Linked DNA regions of Homo sapiens. The protein of the gene in region 2 purifies or fractionates together with the protein of the main gene of each other region. This does not show direct contact. Each region holds a gene or a part of one and is shown on either strand. Other genes may lie near its edges.

What was found. The genes of interacting proteins can lie anywhere in the genome.
Region 1: the proteins of VEZT (region 2) and LRFN2 purify together in Homo sapiens (affinity purification with mass spectrometry; one large-scale study listed by BioGRID and IntAct). This does not show direct contact.

The regions. Positions count from the first base shown.
Region 1 is NC_000006.12:40,433,851-40,437,457, forward strand, and holds part of LRFN2 (leucine-rich repeat and fibronectin type-III domain-containing protein 2 precursor), read right to left. Parts: intron 1-3,607. UniProt on the Homo sapiens protein: Promotes neurite outgrowth in hippocampal neurons. Enhances the cell surface expression of 2 NMDA receptor subunits GRIN1 and GRIN2A. May play a role in redistributing DLG4 to the cell periphery.
Region 2 is NC_000012.12:95,262,700-95,266,306, reverse strand, and holds part of VEZT (vezatin), read right to left. Parts: intron 3,402-3,607; coding exon 3,226-3,401; intron 1-3,225. UniProt on the Homo sapiens protein: Plays a pivotal role in the establishment of adherens junctions and their maintenance in adult life.

The sequences.
Region 1 (3,607 bases), on a different chromosome or scaffold from region 2:
AATTAGCCTCTATCTGGACCCTCACATACATCAGCTCTTTTGGGCTTTAGGAATCCCCTTCAGAAGGAAGGGATTATCTATACACAGACGAGGATTGATCATGGCCTCAGAGCCTCCTTTGGATCTTTACTCACAAGTTACCTTCTCCCAGAGGCCTTCCCAGATGCTCTTCCATGATCATCCCTGCCCCGCCCCGCTGCATAGCCCTCTTCTCTGCTCTGTATTTTCTCCTTGCAACTAATCCCTATCTATGTTTTAACTATTTGTCTTCTTTATAATTTGTTCTTTTGCTCTAGCCGTAAAGCCCCAAGAAGAAGGGACCTCTTTTCATTCACCACTGCATGCCCAAAGCCTAAAGCGCTGCCTGGCACATAGTAGGTGCTTTTACAAGAATGGCTATCTAAGAAAGAAAGGAAGAGAAATCTGACTCAAGTCTTTGCGCCTCCAAATGTCAACAGTTTCCTCACTATCCCATGTTGTACTAAATGTGGCCTTATTGATACAGTGCTTCTTGGGGCTTTACTGATAGAGCAAAATGATAGCCAGTTGAGTTGGACTTTTGGAAAATCATGCAGCACACTGATTGTGTAGCATTATGCAGACCAGCATTTCTCAAATTGCCTTTTTTTTTCTTTTTTTTTTTTTTGAGACGGAGTCTCACTCTGTCTCCCAGGGGAGCGCAGTGGCGCAATCTTGGCTCACTGCAACCTCTGCCTCTGTGGTTCCAGTGATTCTCCTGCCTCAGCCTCCCAAATAGCTGGGACTACAGGCACACACCACCATGCCCAGCTAACTTTTTGTATTTTTAGTAGAGACAGGGTTTCACCATGTTGGCTGGGCTGTTCTCAAACTCCTGACCTCAGGTGATCCACCTGCCCCGGCCTCCCAAAGTGCTGGGATTACAAGCGTGAGCCACCGTGCCCAGCCCCTCAAATTGCCTGCTAAACATACTAATTAGAGTTCTGCAAAAATGGCTTCTAAGGCCAGTAAGGTGGGGAAGCATTGCCTACTCTTGCTTTCTCTCACAATAGCTCTGTACGCATGAGCAAGTTTAGAAGAATTGAGAAATTCTGCTGCAGTGAAACACTAAATTAATGTTTAAGTTTGCATTACTCCTATTTCTTTTTACTATAAAGACATCCCTTTCTTGAGCAATGGTTTTACATATATATATATATATATATATATATATATATATATATAGAGAGAGAGAGAGAGAGAGAGAGAGAGAGAGAGAGAGACAGAGAGATAATATATATTATATATTTTATATATATATTATGTATTTTATATATATATATACAGAGAGAGAGAGAGAGAGAGAGAGAGAGACAGATTCTTGCTCTGTCACCCAGGCTGGAGTGCAGTGGCACAATCATAATTCATGACAGCCTGAAACTCCTGGGCTCAAGTGATTCTCCCACCTTGGCCTCCTGAGTAACTACAGGCACTTGCCATCATGCCTGGCTAATTATTTTTATTTTTATTTTTGTAGAGTCAGATTTTGCTATGTTGCCCAGGCTGGTCTCGAACTTCTGGCTTCAAGTGATCCTCCTGCTTCAGCCTCCCCAAATGTTGGATTTACAGGCATGAGCCACCTCGCCTGGCCAATATCTTGTGGAAGTAGAGCTCTATAACTCCCAGTTTGAGGAGCACAGATGCAGAAAAAACTAGCTTATTTTATTTTTTGTTTCCTATTTTTTTTTGAGACGGAGTCTGGCTCTGTCACCCAGGCTGGAGTACAGTGGCATGATCTCAGCTCACTGCAACCTCTGCCTCCCAGGTTCACGCCATTCTCCTGCCTCAGCCTCCCTAGTAGCTGGGACTACAGGTGCCCGCCACCACACCCGGCTAATTTTTTGTGTTTTTAGTAGAGACAGGGTTTCACTGTGTTAGCCAAGATGGTCTCGATCTCCTGACCTTGTGATCCGCCCGTCTTGGCCTCCTGTAATAGCTTATTTTTTTTAAAAAAGATACGTAATATATTGAAAAATCTATTCCTATCATACACTTTATTATGTATATTTGAATTCCATTATTGCGCCTCTTTAAGGGTAAATCTCCTACCTGAGACCCTTCAAGGGCCAGAGGCTTGCCCTGTATTTTTTCTGGAGAGAGCATCACTGTGAAGTAGAAATATGATGTGAGCCAAAAATGTGACTTCAAATTTCCTAGTGGCCATATTTTTTAAAAAAGTAAAAAGAAACAGGTGAAATTAATTTTGATAATGTATTTTATATAACTAGCTATATCAAAATATTATTTCAATATATCCTCAATATAATTATTAATGAGATGGCTAACTTTTTTATTTTACAAACTCTTCAAAATCTGGTGCGTATTTTACCCTCAGAGCACATTTCAAATGCTCATTAGCCATATGTGGCTATTGGCTACCATACTGGGTAGTGCTGTGAACTGTAGCTCACAGACCAAATATATCCTGTCACCTGTTTTTGTAAATAAAATTTTATTAGAACACAGCCATGCTTATTTGTTTACATATCGCATGTGGCTTCCTTTGTGCCACCATGGCAGAGGTGAGCCATTGCTGCATATAACACATGGCACTGAAGCCTAAAATATTTACTATCTTGTCCTTTACAGAAAGAGTTTGCTGACCTCTGTTCTATAGGATATGTGTTTTTTTTTTTCATCTTCATCAAGGGCACCTTCATTAAAAGCCTTGGCCAAAGTGCCGAGTTCCACACAGCTCTGCCCTGGCCTCCCCATGAGCACCTGCCCACCCTGCCAGTCCCTGTTCTCACCAAGCTCCCACCTAAGGTAGACCAGCTTCACCTTACCCAGGCCCCACCAGGTCACAGGTGTTGATACATGGAAGCTTTCCACCTGCCACCTTTCCAACTTGCTCTGTGCTCAAAGGTGTTCTGGCCTTCTTGGTCTCTACTTGCTGGGGCCTCATAGAACAAAATGAGGATCTTCTCCACTTGCATTGAGTCTTGAGTTTTCTAGCTACACCTCCCTGTGACTCATTGTGGTCACAGAATGAAGAAGGCTGACGTTTTTCTGGCTACGGCATCTGCTCAAATATAGTTGAGTGGTATTCTCTATACCCACGAGAGCACATGAACAGCCACAGCCACATCCAAGGATGTCCCTTGCTAATTAATCAAGAGGTGGTTGAGTGTGTGTGTGTGTGTATGTGTATGGGGTAGTGTTCTATGGCCCCATGAGAAAGGCCATCTCTCTTATGAGCTCTTATCAGTAAATGCATCAGTGTTCTAAGGCTAAACAGCACTTCCCAACATTTTCAAGTCCTGGCACACAGGAAATGATATTTGTCAGGTGCCCCTGGGCCCAGGGCCAAGGCTATTCATGGCCTGTGCTGGATATCTTCCACTGTCCCTCCAGATCCTCTCTCCACCCTCTCCCCGCCAGCTCTGCATTCTGGGAGGCTGATCCATATGGACCGCATCTGTGCAATATAGATGGACTGCCTCCGCCATCCTTTGTGCCCTTCTACCCTTGGCTGTGTTGCCTGCCCTCTGGTAGAGACAGCAATGGCAACAGCAAGCAAAGAAGGCCCAGACGCTTCCAGATGCATACCCTGGAGCTCAGAGGCACAGAGCCCATTGTTTCAAACAGT
Region 2 (3,607 bases):
GATGAATTACTTTAATCAGTAAAAACAAAATTTAAATTTAGGTTTACTAAATAAATAAAATGCTAGCTTCTTTGTAAAGCATAACTTAAAAATATATGACATTTAAGAAGGTGATGTGAAAGATTTTTAAAATACCTCGCAACTAGACAATAGTGCTTAGGTATTAACATCTGAGCTGATAAATTTAAGTAAGAAAACAGGTATCTTCTGGAATCAGGTAAAGCTGATTTCACAAAAGAAACTCAAATTCTCTGTAGGTGCTGACTGAATGCTGGGCAGAACCAACAAAAGGCCTCTACATTTCCTACATATACAGAATCTGGAGCTAGAAATACCACCCATCGCCTGCAGGATAAAATCAAACTTCATTAGCTCAGTCTACAAAATCCTTCAGAAGTTGGCCCAGAACATGTCTTGAGTCAGATCAGCATCCCAGCCCTCAACTCCAAGCATTGTAAACCAGAACATCTCTTCCTTCTCTTTCCTTTTTGCCTGGTGTCATCTTATATTTAATACCAAAATCCTATGCGTTCAAACCTTCCTCTGACACCAAGTCTTCTGTGAAGATTTTGCCAAAAGCTTGAAATAGTTACTTCTAATTTTAGCCAACCCCTCTTCTGTGACCCCAAAGAAATTGCTACATTTCTCTTTATGACATTAATAAAAATGATAATAAATATAACAATAGGCATCTTCTGAAACCACTTTTAAAAAAATAAAAAATATATGGAATCCTTAACCTAAAAAGCAAATTAGAGATTTTAAAATCCGATTTTATAGATTTAAAAGTAAAAATACTATTTCAGAGATATTATAAATCCCTTTTCCTAAAATCAAACTTTATTTGCATAGAAACACATACTAGATCAAGAATATGTACACATTTTTCCAATTAGAAATGATACACACTTGATGAGTAATTGTTTGAATAAAGTCCTCTAATTTTAAATAATCATCATCAATTTGGAATATACATACTTACCACAGACCATGATATGGACAAGGTTTGTACTTTTATACTACTTTAATTGAAACAAAAATATGTACACATTTTAAAATTCATATCAATTGCAAGTCTAACAGACTAAAATACATCTTTAAAGCAATGAATGCTTTGGTGAAAATGTGTATATATAAGAAAGAGGGGGCCAGGCACAGTGGCCCACGCCTGTAATCTCAGCACTTTGAGAGGCACAGGTGGGAGGACCACTTGAGCCCAGGAGTTCGAGACCAGACTGGGCAACACAGTAGGACCCCTTCTCTACAAAAAATTTAAAAATTAGCTGGGTGTGGTTGCATGCATCCGTAGTCCCTGCTATTCGGAGGCTGAGGCGGAGGGATCACTTGAGCAGGCTGCAGTAAGCCGAGATCATGCCACTGCACTCCAGCCTGGGTGGCAAAGCAGGACCTTGTCTCAAAAAAAAAAAAAAAAAAAAAGAAAAGAAAAGAAAGAGGGGAGTATAAGGGGGATGTGTCTGAGAATAGCTGAAAAACAGCAATATTTGGAAAGAGTTATAATAATCATATTGCAAAGAAAATCACATGCAATTTCTTATTAAATATTTGCCCTGGCCAGGTGCAGGGGCTCGTGCCTGTAATCCCAGCACTTTGGGAGGCTGAGGCAGGCAGATCACTTGAGTTCAGGAATTCAAGACCAGCCTGGGCAACATGGCAAAACCCTGTCTCTGAAAAAAATACAAAAATTAGCCAGGTATGGTGGCATGCTCCTATAGTCCCAGGTATTTGGGAGGCTAGGGCAGGAGGATCACTTGAGTCTAGGAGGCTGAGGCTGCAGTGAGCTGAGGTCACACCACTGTACTCCAGCCTGAGCAACAGAGACCCTGTCTCAAAAAATAAGTAAATAAATAAATATTTGCCCTAATTTCCTTTAGAATCCTTTACTTTTCAGATAATACTGGCAATACCATAAAGCAAAATCTCATCATATACTTTTGTATGTTAATAGTAAACTCTAAAATCATTTATAGGTCTCATAGTTGCTTGATTATATTTGTGGGTAAAGGAAAGTTAGTAAAGTAGTAAATTCTTAAAACCTATGGTTCCTTCTATCAGCTCCTTAAATTCTTGTATTTTTGAAGGATAAGAAGCTTTACTTCTTCATGATCATATCTGAGTGACTGCAGAATGAAGCATTTGTCAGTGTGACAGGGAAGACATAAATACAGAACCTTGAGGCCAATGAATGTAACTGCCTATATAACTTGAACAGTTTGAATAGTGATTTAGTGTACTTCTTGATTCATTCCTCCCTTCTATGTCAAATTTAATAAAGTACTTTAACAGGAAGAAGACATCAATAATTTTTTATATATAATCGCTTTTTGCTACACATTCTTTTTTTTTCTTTTAACAGATTATTGCTTGGGACTTCTGCTCTAGACCCAAATAGTTCAAGAGGTTGAAAAGTTTTAGGATGGTCTGAATGAATCATCAAATCACATTCCCTGTGATCTTTTCTCAGCCAACACAGCCAGAATCAACTGCCTACCTCCATGTCCCATCCTATTCTTGGTGTCTCTACAATATAGTTACGATAAAACCTATTAATTATAAAGAAACACAAAGAAGGTTAGGTTTGCATGCACACATGTGAATAGGTGTATGGGTAAAATAAATTCTTTTTTTTTTCCCCTTAGAGACAGGGTCTCGCTTTGTTGCTCAGGCTGGAGTGCAGTGGTGTGATCACGGCTCACTGCACTCTGCAACTGCTGGGCTCAAGCAATCCTCCCATATCAGTCTCCCAAGGAGCTAGGTCTACAGACATATGCCAACATACCTGAACTCATTTTTTCATGTTTTGTAGAGATGGGATTTTGCTACGTTGCCCAGGCTGGTCTCAAACTCTTGGCCTTAAGCAATCCTACCACCTCAGCCTCCCAAAGTGTTGGGATTACAGGCATGAGCCACTGCACCTGGCAGAGTAACTTTTTGGCACTTGTTATACCCATTTGCTAGGTTGCTGAGCACAGAACTAATTTTAATGAGTTGGAAGTATATAATAACCAAATTGGATTTTTTTCCCTAGCTTCACTTTAAATAGTATTTACTTTAGAAAGGCACTTTTTCCCCCCATATTGTTACTTTAATTGTACTGCTAAATGTATGGAATGTTTATGCCTTTACAATGGAGAGCACAATGATGGGTTTCCTCTGCTAATACTCTGTATGTAAGCAGTCAAAGAATAGGTGTTTTCTGGACAGTACCAAATATTAGGGGTTGCCAGGGAGCAAAGTGTTGGAAGGTGTCCATTTTCCTGTTGTTGAGATTGCCCTGCAGACAGGATACTGGGATCAAGTAGCTCAATCAGCTCCACATCCTCTTGTAACAGGACTTCCTGTTGCAGGATGGTATGTAATGAGTCGAGTCGGAATCCAATATCCTTGCCATTAAAATACCAGAAGAGAGGTATTAACACATATATAATATTGCATTAAACGCTAAGCTCCTAATGTACTAATAAAATTTGGTGGTGTTTATTTTCAGAAGATACTTCAAGAAGAAACAACAGTCCAATCTACCTTCAGTATGATAGCTGGGTTTTATTTTCACTGTAAATGTGAAACAGTAAAGGTTGAGATAGACATT